3 linked regions of the Homo sapiens genome follow. The gene in region 1 interacts genetically with each later gene. Each region holds a gene or a part of one and is shown on either strand. Other genes may lie near its edges.

Region 1 (3,650 bases):
TTGAGAGATAATCAACAGTTTACCAAATAACAACAACAAAAATATCACCTTTATCACCTTTAAAAAATGTCTACATTGGCCGGGCACGGTGGCTCACGCCTGTAATCCCAGCACTTTGGGAGGCCGAGGTGGGCGGATCATGAGGTCAGGAGATCGAGACCATCCTGGCTAACATGGTGAAACCCCGTCTCTACTAAAAATACAAAAAAATGAGCCGCGTGTGGTGGTGGGCACCTGTAGTCCCAGCTACTCGGGAGGCTGAGGCAGGAGAATGGCTTGAACCTGGGAGGTGGAGCTTGCAGTGAGCCAAGATCACGCCACTGCACTCCAGCCTGGGTGACAGAGCAAGATTCCATCTCAAAAAAAAAAAAAAAAAAAAGTCTGCATTAGGCTGGTGTGGTGGCTCACGTGTGTAATCCCAGCACTTTGGGAGGTCAAGGTGGGAGGACTGTTTGAGCCCAGGAGTTCCAGCCCAGGCAACAAACATAATGAGACCCTATCTCTACAAAACAAATGAACGAAAAATAGCTGGGACTACAGGTGTAGTCCAAGCTACTCAGGAGGGTAAGGTGGGAGGATCACTTGAGTGCAGGAGTTTGAGGCTGCAGTGAACTATGATCACACCACTGCACTCCAGTCTAGGTGACAGAGCGAGACCCTGTCTAAAAAAAAAAATACAAAAAACATTAGCCTGCTATATTCTTCCCTTTAATTTTATTGAAAAAAACAAAACAAAAACAAACCCACCCAAATGCCAGCCCAATCCTGGGCTTTCCCCATATTTTCTATTATAGGTTGTATTTTATAACTATTTACATGCTATATACCTTACTAAACTCTGAATTCTTTGAAGGCGGGGACCTATTTTTTATCTCTGAATCCTAAAGTTTAATGTTAAAAGTAATCTGTTGTATAACAGGCTCAATAAATGTTTGCTGAATAAATTTAATCTCATCTGAGCTATGAATGGAAGAGCCATCCCCAAAATGGTATGCTTTTATATGAAGAGCTAATAAAAAATATGCAAAGTAAGATCTAAAAATTAGGTGAAATAAAACTTCTTTATATGTATAGCCTATGACAAAATATATGGTAAACCTGACTGAGTAAAGAGAAACTTACTTGGACATAAGAAACATAAACTCATTCAGAATGACTAGAAAGTGTTAGAAACTGGAGGATGAGAATACCTATCACACCTGGGCACTCAAGAGCACATGTACAGCTGTACCTGATCAGTTCTAGCTGAGCCAGTTCCAGATTGGCTTGAAAAATAGGCTTCTTTGTGAATAGTTCCCCAAGAATACATCTAGAAAAGGTAAAATTGAGAGGTCAGAAGAGAAATTCTTAGAGCCTATTTAAAGTGTCTCAAAAAATTTTTACATTATTGATATGTCGGATTGCAACCAAGATAAATAGCCCCAAATTTCAGTGTCTGAGTTTCCAAAGAGAAAATATTTCTTGCAGTGAAACAGACAGTATAAAGAATTTAAATTTGCCAGCAGATCAAACTTTTGCCACCTATTAAGGACACTCTATGATCAGAGAAAGGGAGTCAAGAGTCTTTTTCTATCATGCCATTGTAATTAAGGAAATAACTAAAGACAATTTTACAAGGTTGCTCAAAATTAAAGAACAATACTAACAAAAAATAAATAAACAAGGATGCTCTCTGCAGTTAGTTTCTATAAAGTTTGAATTCATTTTTGTCATTAATCTGCTCTGTAGAAGATGCACTATACTATAGCCTTCTTGGCACTGTATTTCAAATAAAATAATTTACTGTCATCAGCTAGGATCAGTTGGACTTTTTTTATTTTTATTTTTTGAGATAGAGTCTCACTCTGTCACCCAGGCTGGAGTGCAGTGGTGCTATCTCCACTCACTGCAACCTTTGCCTCCCAGGTTCAAGTGATTCTCTGCCTCAGCCTTCCAAGTAGCTGGGACTACAGGCATGCACCACCACACCCGGCTAATTTTTTTGTATTTTTAATAGAATCTAGTGAATCTAACATGAATAAATCTCAAATCATTTATGCTGATTAAAAGAGTGGGGGGAGTATATACTATATAATTCCATTTGTGTAAAATTCTAGAAATAGAAATTATAGTGACAGAATGCAGAACAGTGGTTTGCCTGGGAATGGGAGGGTACGGGTAGAGGAAAGGGATTACAAAAGGGCACAAGGAAACTGTGGTGGGTGATCATTATCTTGGCTGTGTTGATGGTTTTACTGGTGGATATGTTATGTCAAAACATATCAAAATATATGCAGTTTATTTTATACTTCAATAAAATAGGTTTAAATATTGAATGAATTTGATAAGGCTATACTAAAGTTTTCTGTACTATTCCTGTAACTTTTCCATACATTGAAATTATTTCAAAATAAAATAAAGGCTGAGCATGGCAGCTCATGTCTGTGATCCCAGCACTTTGGGAGGCCTAGGCAGGAGGATCACTTGAAGCCAGGAGTTCAAGACCAGCCTGGCAACATAGGAAGACCACATCTCAAAGATTACATGAATATCCCATACTTTTTGTTACGTGCCTGAAATTTTTCATTTTTTTAAAGTGGGGAAAGAAAAAAAAAGGTCGATGAATCTGTCTGACCTATGCTTTGAAATGAGACAAATACAAAACCAAATTTATACTTTTATTTTAAAATTCTTTAGTTTGACTTAATTTGAGAAAGCAAAACGAACCTAGCTTTTTAAGTAGCACTTTTCTGTTAGAATTTGGACCTTTAAACGAATTATGTTAAAACAACTTCAAAGACAAATTCTTACTTCCTATATTCTCTCAAACCCTATTCAGAGATGGAAAAGTGAAAATAAAATTTAGGCCAGGCTCAGTGGCTGATGCCTGTAATCCTGGCACTTGGTGAGGCCGAGGTGGGAAGATTGCTTGAGCCCAGGAGTTTGAGACCAGGCTGGGCAACGTAGTGAGATCCCAACTCTATAAAAAGAAAAAAAAAGTAAAATTTAATTCTGTTTTCAACATTAACTGCCACATCAAGTTCTAAGTGCAATGTTGTCGTCACAGCGGGTAAAATCAGAGACATTTAAAAAAGAAAAGAAGAAAAAAAAACCACTAGGTTTTCAGACTCCTGACATAATTTGCTGTACTAGTCTTTCTAGTTTCTCCTCGATTCTAATTTGCACACTGAACTGTCATACCAATTCTCTATAAAAAATCCCATAAAAATATCTTCAGAGAGACTACCATGAATCACCAAAGTAGTAAGTTCACATCAAAACTCAAACAAAATCTTAATTCAATGAGCCACTGGGCTTTGAAGAATGTCTAACTTTATGTAGTTTTAATTTCCAATTGTGTTTTTCTGTTTTCTTTTCTTTTGGTTTCCAGTCCTTTGGTGGGAAGACATCTTCATTATGTAATCAACACTTTGCTACTGCTCTGAGGTGGCAGGCTGCACAGACTGAAATAATAGTACCGAACAGAGCTATGAACTTTCCTCGTGCATCTTAATGGGGCGTTAACTTTAGAGCCTAGTTGTGACAATTTAAATGCTAATACTGTTAAAGCAAATTGTCCAGAACAAAAACACACCCAGCTTGAGTCAGTAAAATTTAACTAAAGCTTTATTTTATTTGGGTAGGCTACCACAGAAATTATGCTCTTTCTC
Region 2 (4,101 bases), on another chromosome or scaffold:
TTGATTCAGCACTGAGTGACAGAATGTGGGGACTTTGAAAACCAGTAATTGTAAGTGATTTAGTCTTCAAGCAGCACTGCTGGCAAGCTAAAAATACATGTGAAGGATAGAACCACTATCAGCTTCTAGAATGGTTAGAGTAATGTCCTTTGAAAGGAGTTTTTCTTTTGCTAAAGAAAAATTTCTAACATAAAAGGAAGTAAATTATGAACTTTCTGATGCTTTCTAAATTACCAGGAAAAGATCAGATTCTGGTATATGATGAGCATTAGACTAAAATGATGGATTAGGGTCTGATAAAGTTGGTGCTACTCCCACGACATTTGGAGGAGGTATGGAGCAGCATGGATTACTTGGCTGGGTTATGAGCCTTGGGATTTGCAGAGATTATATGTAGATAGACTCATCACAGTTCTACTCATATGTAAGATGACAAAGAGAAGTTAATCAGACTCCTCATAAAATCAGGCCTCTAGTGCTGCACTCTACCAATAAGCATTGAGTCATGCTGTAAGAGCAATAGACTAAATGGAACACTAATGGCCTAAAAAGAGAATGTGCCCTCTAAGCTGCTAACTTATTGCGTAGGCACAACTCAGGCGGTGGGGAGAAAGCCCATTACAAATGAAGAGCTCTTGCTTCCCTAGAGGGGAATAAGCTAAAGAGATTCCATCAGATGCGTCTGCTCAGCTGCAACGAGATCTGTTTTATAAACATCAGATCCAGCCTAATAATGTAGCAAAATTGCTCTTGGAAATGAATTTTGCCAAGAGCAATACTTTGACAGTGATGAGGGATAGATAGTGCACATAAAGTAGAATTAATGTGCAGACCCATATATACAGTAGGGTCACCCTTTGTAATATTGGCTTACTAGAAAGAATAATAGTAGGAGACTCTAGTCATTATTGCTGGGGAGAAAGGCCAAAGATAATAGGGGATATTTAGGTTAGAAAAATATTGCCATTGAGGTTTGAGAAGAGAGAAGTGCCAATAAATACAAAAGTCTTCTTTAAAGGGGGAACACCAAAAATATAATTCTGAAATAGTTGTCTCACTGTTATTTACTTTAAATTGATATTAATGTGTTTTCCTTTTTCCTAAATAGGTGAATTTTTCCTGAAAAATCTAGTGGCTAAAAGAAAAACAAAAGACCTCTAAAACTTCAACAAGACCTTCAAGATCACAGAAATTTTTAAAATTTGATTCCAGTTAATAACAGAGGTGGTGCCAGAATGCCTGGACTGCAGTGGATGTGCCCCACCTCTTTGCTTAAAAAAAAAAATGTCAATAGCCAGGCATAGTGGCTCACGCCTGTAATCCCAGCACTTTAGGAGGCCAAGGCGGGTGGATCACCTGAGGTCAGGAGTTCGAGACCAGCCTGGCCAACATGGTGAAATCCTGTCTCCACTAAAAACACAAAAATTAGTCAGGCGTGGTAGTGGGTGCCTGTAATCCCAGCTACTCGGGAGGCTAAGGCAGGAGAATCACTTGAACCTGGGAGGGGGAGGTTGCAGTGAGCCAAGATCGCTCCATTGCCCTCCAGCCTGGGTGACAAGAGCAAAACTCCATCTCAAATAAATAAAAAGGAAAAAAAAGTCAATAAACTGTACAAATTTAATTACAGTAATTCATTTGGCTTTTAGTGTATCTTCTTTGTCCCAATTAAACAGTTGCTTGCTGTGATGTAATCTTAAAATATCTTTGTAAGAATTTTCTTTTAACATAATTTTAAAATGCATTAAAAACATGGCATGGTGGCTCACACCTATAATCCCAACATTTTGGGAGGCCAGGGCGGGTGGATCACTTGAACCCAGGAGTTCGAGACCAGCCTGGGCAACATGATGAGACCTTATCTCTACAAAAAATTAGCCAGACGTGGTGGCACGCACCCGTAGTCCCAGCTACTCAGGCTGAGGTGAGAGGATCACTTGAACCTGGAAAGCAGAGGTTGCAATGAGCTGAGGTGGTGCCACTGCTCTCCAGCCTGGGCGCTACAACTGCTCTCCAGACTCTGTCTTGAAAAAAAAACCCAAAAACTTCCAGAAGATTTTCCAATCCACTGTTAACATCATTACATTTCATTTATGAAAAATAAAAACTTCATTTATGTTACTGTGATGAAACAGTCAACATAGATTGAAACTCATCAGTTTAGCATTTCATTCAACTTTAGCATTCATTCAACGTAGATTGAAACTCATCAGATTAGCATTTGTCCTTGTAATATTGGAATAATTTAGAAAGGCTTAAGAGTGAATGTTGGCCAGATGTGGTGGCTCATGCCTGTAATTCCAGCACTCTGAGAGGCCGAGGTGGGCAGATCACCTGAGGTCGGGAGTTTGAGAACAGCCTGGCCAACCTGGTGAAACTCCATTGCTACTAAAAATAAAAAAATTAGCTAGGTGTGTTGGCAGGTGCCTGTAATCCCAGCTACTTGGGAGGCTGAGGCACGAGAATTACTTGAGCCTGTGAAGCAGAGATTGCAGTGAGGCGATATCGTGCCACTGCACTCCAGCCCGGGCAACAGAGTGAGACTGTCTCAAAAAAAAAGTAAATGTTGATTTTTTACATTGGTGTGACTACTTCAGAACCTGCAAAATAGTTTTATGCTGATTACATTTAGTCCCTCTGAAAACACCAAGGCCATAATGCTGCCTAAGACATGGAAATAGAACCTAGAAATATTAACCCTTATTTGTATAGTAGCTTGCTAAATCCACATGCCCTATTCCTTTCATTTCTCACATTGGTTGTATTATATGATGGTAAAGGCCTGAGAAAGGAATTTCCTTCCAAAATACTAATAACTCAGATTCATCTTTTGACTGAATCCTGCCTTTCTACTTTTTCTGCATATCTAAAAGGACACTTTTAGGTGGCCATGTTGTAAAATATGTAAAGTGGATAGCCAATTCTGTTTTGAATTCTTATAACGAGCCAGTATTATAAAAGTAATGCACATCCTTGCCAGGTGTGGTGGCTCACGCCTGTAATCCCACCACCTTGGGAGGCTGAGGCGGGTGAATCAGTTGAGCTCAGGAGTTTGAGACTAGCCTGGGCAACACAGTCAGACCCCCATCTCTACCAAAAATACAAAAAATTAGCTGGGTGTGGTGGCACATGCTTGTAATCTCAGCTATTTGGGAGGCTGAGGCAGGAGAATCACTTGAACCTGACAGGCAGAGGTTGCAGTGAGCTGAGATCACATCACTGTACTCCAGCCTGGGTGACAGAGACCGTGTCTCAAAAAAAATTTTTTTAAGTAATGCATGGGCCGGGCATGGTGGCTTAATGCCTGTAATTCCAACGTTTTGGGAGGCCGAGGCAGGTGGATCACCTGAGGTCAGGAGTTTGAGACCAGCCTGAACAACATGGTGAAACACTGTCTCTACTAAAAATTAAAAAATTAGCCAAGTGTGGTGGCGCATGTCTGTAATCCCAGCTACTCAGGAGGCTGAGACAGGAGAATCCTTGAACCTGGGAGGCAGAGGTTGCAGTGAGCTGAGATCACACCATTGCACTCCAGCCTGGACAACGAGTGAAACTCCTCAAAAAAAAAAAAAAAAAAAAGTAATGTATGTCTTTATAGATGCTAGTAAATTTTGGGATGCAAATTTAACCCTACCAACTTTCTTTTGTTTTGAGACAGTCTCACTCTGTCAGGCTAGAGTGCAGTGGCGCGATCTCAACTCACTGCAACCTCTGCCTCCTGGGTTCAAGTGATCCTCCTGCGTCAGCCTCCCAAGTAGCTGGGATTACAGGCGCACACCATCACGCCCAGCTAATTTTTGTATTTTTAGTAGAGATGGGGTTTTGCCGTGTTGGCCAGGCTGGTCTCAAACTCTAGGCCTCAAACGATCTGACCGCCTTGGCCTCCCAAAATGTTGGGATTTGTGAGCCACCACCGGGCCTAACCCTACCAACTTAAAATAGAAACATCTCAAGCTACCTTAACTTATTTTACAGGAAAAAAATGGATTACTTTTCAGGCTAATTTTGTGACATTTCTAGATATTATCTAATAGTTAGGCCCTTTGCACAGTGTAGGCCAATGGCAGGTAAACATTTGTTAGCAGGAGACTCATTTGGTGAAAT
Region 3 (3,650 bases), about 12 Mb from region 1:
CCCAGAGATGTTGACAGCCTGTGGTTCAGATGACCTTCAAAGGCAGAAGAAAGCCCTAGAAGAAGGTCGAGGGAGGTCTTTTGGCTGAGCGGGGAGAGTCTTTGTCCACACAGGCAGGAGAGAGGCCTTTGATAGCTTCAGCCACTGCCACTTCCTGTCTCTCTTTTTGCAGAAAAGAGCGGGGAGTGAGCCGTCCATGGCGGCCCTGGGGCCACCAATCTCCCTGTAGCACTTTGGTTCCATGCTGGAGTAACCTTTGGTTCTGGTCTTCCTGGACGTGGGACTTTTAGCGCCAAAACTGGGAACACCCCAGGCTCAGGGATCAGCCCCAGCTGCCCACTCTTGGGCCCCTGATATGTGGCGTTTCTTCCTCTCCCCTGAGAGCTGCTCCACCAGTGACCCATACCTGAAGCCGAGGGCTCGGGGCCTCTGTGCTGGAAATTCCCAGCAACTGTATCAGCCACCAGGTGTCGCTAATGAGCCACCTGCATGTCCTGCCACCGGCCTTGCTGGCCAAAGTGAGGGAATCTCATTAGTTTCAAGGGTTGTTGCAAGCAGCCCCTGCTTCCAAACAGCAGCTTTAGCCAGCCTGTCCAGTAAATGAGAGCCCAGTTTGCTTTTACCACTTGCTTGGTGGGGGGCAGTTTGGCCACAGGGGCGTGGTGGTAATGAGAAGTCTCACCCTCCCCACCTGCCCAGATCCCCTGCCCAGAGCCCCTGCCCAGAGCCCCTTCCTGAGACACAGCTGTGTATGCAGAAGCAGGTGCTGTGGAGGCTGCGTCCTTGCAAAATTTATGGAAGGGCCCAGGCTGGTCCTTGTGGGAGTGTCTGGGGAACATGTGGCAGTCCACTCAGGGGAAAATCAGCCTCTCTGGGGGTGCTGGGTTTCAAGCACGGTGTCTCTTTGGGGAGAGGAAAGCAATCTCATGCTTTGTGTTTGGTTTTTGTTTCCTCCAGACATTTCAGCCTTTGCACACGCAGCCCCGCTCCCTGAAGCTGCCGACGGTACCCGGTAGGCATCCCTAGGTGGTGTCCCCTTCGCTTCTTTGGGGAATTATTAAGGCTGGATCCATATCCCTGGCCACCTCCCACTCCACCTTTCCATCTCCAGCCAGCCAGATGCAGAACTCCCTGGGCTCATTCACCCTCTGGGCAAGTGAACTCCACAGAGGGTTTTATTTGCCTCCTATCAGTGCGGTCAACATTGGGTGGGGCCGCATGTGAAACTGGAGCAGTCTTGGGACCCAGGCGGGTTGGATAGAGGGCATTTGGAGTTAGAGAAGCCTAAGAATAGCTCCTGTGCAGAGCCCTTTCTCTACCAGGCCATGCTGAGCACTTGACTCACATTCCCGCATCTCACCCTCAGCGCGGTGGTAGGTATCAAAGTAGGTGTCATTCTTAACATACAGCCAGCCCAGAGAGGTTAAGAAATTACATAAGGTCACACAGCTAGGAAGCGATAGAGCTGGTTTTCCAAGTTGAGGCCGTCAGATTCCGAGTCCTGTGGGTGTGCTCTGAGACCCTGTGTAGCAGTGTCACATCTGAAAAGGGGCTTTGGGGATCACTGCCCACCTCTCAGCCCCCACCACCCTCAAGTTAGCCTAGGGAAGGCTGAGGCTGCACAAGGGGCAGGTCTGGCCCTCAGCCTCCTGCCTATTGCCATGCTATCCACGCGGCCTTTCCCCTAGCCAGGTGTGAGTCAGAGTAAGTACCTTTGTCTCAGATCTCTCCCGGGAGTCCCCGCTAGCTGAGAGCAGAGCGGTGTTCCTCAAGGTCTCCTTGACAAACCTTGTTTACTCTTAGGCTCGATGACCAGCCGAAAGCAGATGTGTTGGAAGCTCACGAAGCGGAGGTGAGGGTGACACACACGTGTCCACAGATGGCCCCCCCTCTTTTTTCCCTTCCCCATCTCAGAATGCGCAGGGGGCTTGAGGGTGAGTGGGTTCTGGACTTTGGCAAGGGCTGTCCCAGGCACCCATTGCAGAGGTGCATGTCAGGGAAGAACGATGAGGAATGCAATGGAGCAAGCTTGTCCAAGCTCTGTCTTCCCCACACTCCCCAGGTGATTGTAGCCAGGGTCAAGAACCACTGCCTTGACCCTTGAACAAAAGTGTCAGCCAAGGCTGGATCCCTCCATTGCATTATGGCTTGGAGAATGTTAACAGACTGATTTACTCCTGCCCAGGGGAGAGTCAGAAACTCTGTGTTTAAACAAGAGTTCCAGAAGGATGGATGCAGTGAAATTCTTCTATGCCAGGGATGCTCTTGCTCTTTCCTGGACAATTAGATGTTGCTCACAGGTAGGTATTGGAGTATTAGCATGATGAAGGGCCTCAGGTCACCGGGGCCAGCCGCCACATATTGTGGATGAGGACATTGAGGTCCACTGATGCTAAGTGAGCTGCACAGCAGGCCAGTGCAGAGCTGCAACTACAACCTGGGTCCCCTGGCAGGATGCCTCTCTCCCCTGTTACCTGGCTAGGGCTCCAGGAGAAGGAAGAGACGTCGCAGAGCCCAGATCTGCTGCCCATCCCTGTTCTTCCTGCTCTCCTTTCAGGCTGAGGAGCCAGAGGCTGGCAAGTCAGAGGCAGAAGACGATGAGGACGAGGTGGACGACTTGCCGAGCTCTCGCCGGCCCTGGCGGGGCCCCATCTCTCGCAAGGCCAGCCAGACCAGCGTGTACCTGCAGGAGTGGGACATCCCCTTCGAGCAGGTAGAGCTGGGCGAGCCCATCGGGCAGGGCCGCTGGGGCCGGGTGCACCGCGGCCGCTGGCATGGCGAGGTGGCCATTCGCCTGCTGGAGATGGACGGCCACAACCAGGACCACCTGAAGCTCTTCAAGAAAGAGGTGATGAACTACCGGCAGACGCGGCATGAGAACGTGGTGCTCTTCATGGGGGCCTGCATGAACCCGCCCCACCTGGCCATTATCACCAGGTAACCAAGCCCTAGGACCTCATGCTGGATGGCCAGCTCAGCCTCCCCCTTCCCAGGGAGCCCTGTTTGTGTGGATGCCCTAGAGGGTGTGGAAGTTCTAATAGAGGCATAAAGAAGAAAACCAAAAATGGGGTATAACTTCCTAATCACATAACCGCATTGACACTAAAAAATAAATAAATATGGGCTGGTGCAGTGGCCCATGTCTGTAATCCCAACACTTTGGGAGGCCAAGGTGGAAGGATTGCTTGAGCCCAGGAGCTTGAGACCAGCCTGGGCAACATACTGAGACGCTGTCTCTACAAAAAAATTAGCTGGGCCTGGTGGCAGGTGCCTGTGCCTGTGGTCTCAGCTACTTGGGAGGCTGAGGCAGGAGGATCGCTTGAGCCCAGGAGGTCAAGGCTGCAGCGAGCCAAGATCATGCCACTGCACTCCAGCCTGGGTGACAGAGTGAGACCTTTCTAAGTTTACAGAAGATCAAATGTCCATAAAAGGTACAGAGTGAAAGCCAGTCTTCTCCCACTGCAACTGAGCGCTTCTCCCCAAAGTCAGAGACACTATAAACAGTTAACATTCCTTCTGTTAAAAGGAAGACATTTGCATATACTCACGTTTTTAAACTGTTTATTCCTTTTTGTAAAAATACAAAGGAGAGATCATGCTGGCTCACACCTTGCCTCCTGCACCCGATTGTGGGTCTGAGGTCTACTCTC

What was found.
Region 2: changes in CDK12 (region 1) and LIAS together harm fitness less than expected from each alone (positive genetic interaction), as found in Homo sapiens cells (one large-scale study listed by BioGRID).
Region 3: changes in CDK12 (region 1) and KSR1 together harm fitness more than expected from each alone (negative genetic interaction), as found in Homo sapiens cells (one large-scale study listed by BioGRID).

The regions. Positions count from the first base shown.
Region 1 is NC_000017.11:39,513,390-39,517,039, reverse strand, and holds part of CDK12 (cyclin-dependent kinase 12), read right to left. Parts: intron 1,310-3,650; coding exon 1,232-1,309; intron 1-1,231. UniProt on the Homo sapiens protein: Cyclin-dependent kinase that phosphorylates the C-terminal domain (CTD) of the large subunit of RNA polymerase II (POLR2A), thereby acting as a key regulator of transcription elongation.
Region 2 is NC_000004.12:39,475,955-39,480,055, forward strand, and holds the end of LIAS (lipoyl synthase, mitochondrial isoform 1 precursor), read left to right. Parts: intron 1-1,108; coding exon 1,109-1,161; 3' UTR 1,162-3,552; downstream 3,553-4,101. UniProt on the Homo sapiens protein: Catalyzes the radical-mediated insertion of two sulfur atoms into the C-6 and C-8 positions of the octanoyl moiety bound to the lipoyl domains of lipoate-dependent enzymes, thereby converting the octanoylated domains into lipoylated derivatives.
Region 3 is NC_000017.11:27,602,877-27,606,526, forward strand, and holds part of KSR1 (kinase suppressor of Ras 1), read left to right. Parts: intron 1-957; coding exon 958-1,012; intron 1,013-1,803; coding exon 1,804-1,852; intron 1,853-2,557; coding exon 2,558-2,937; intron 2,938-3,650.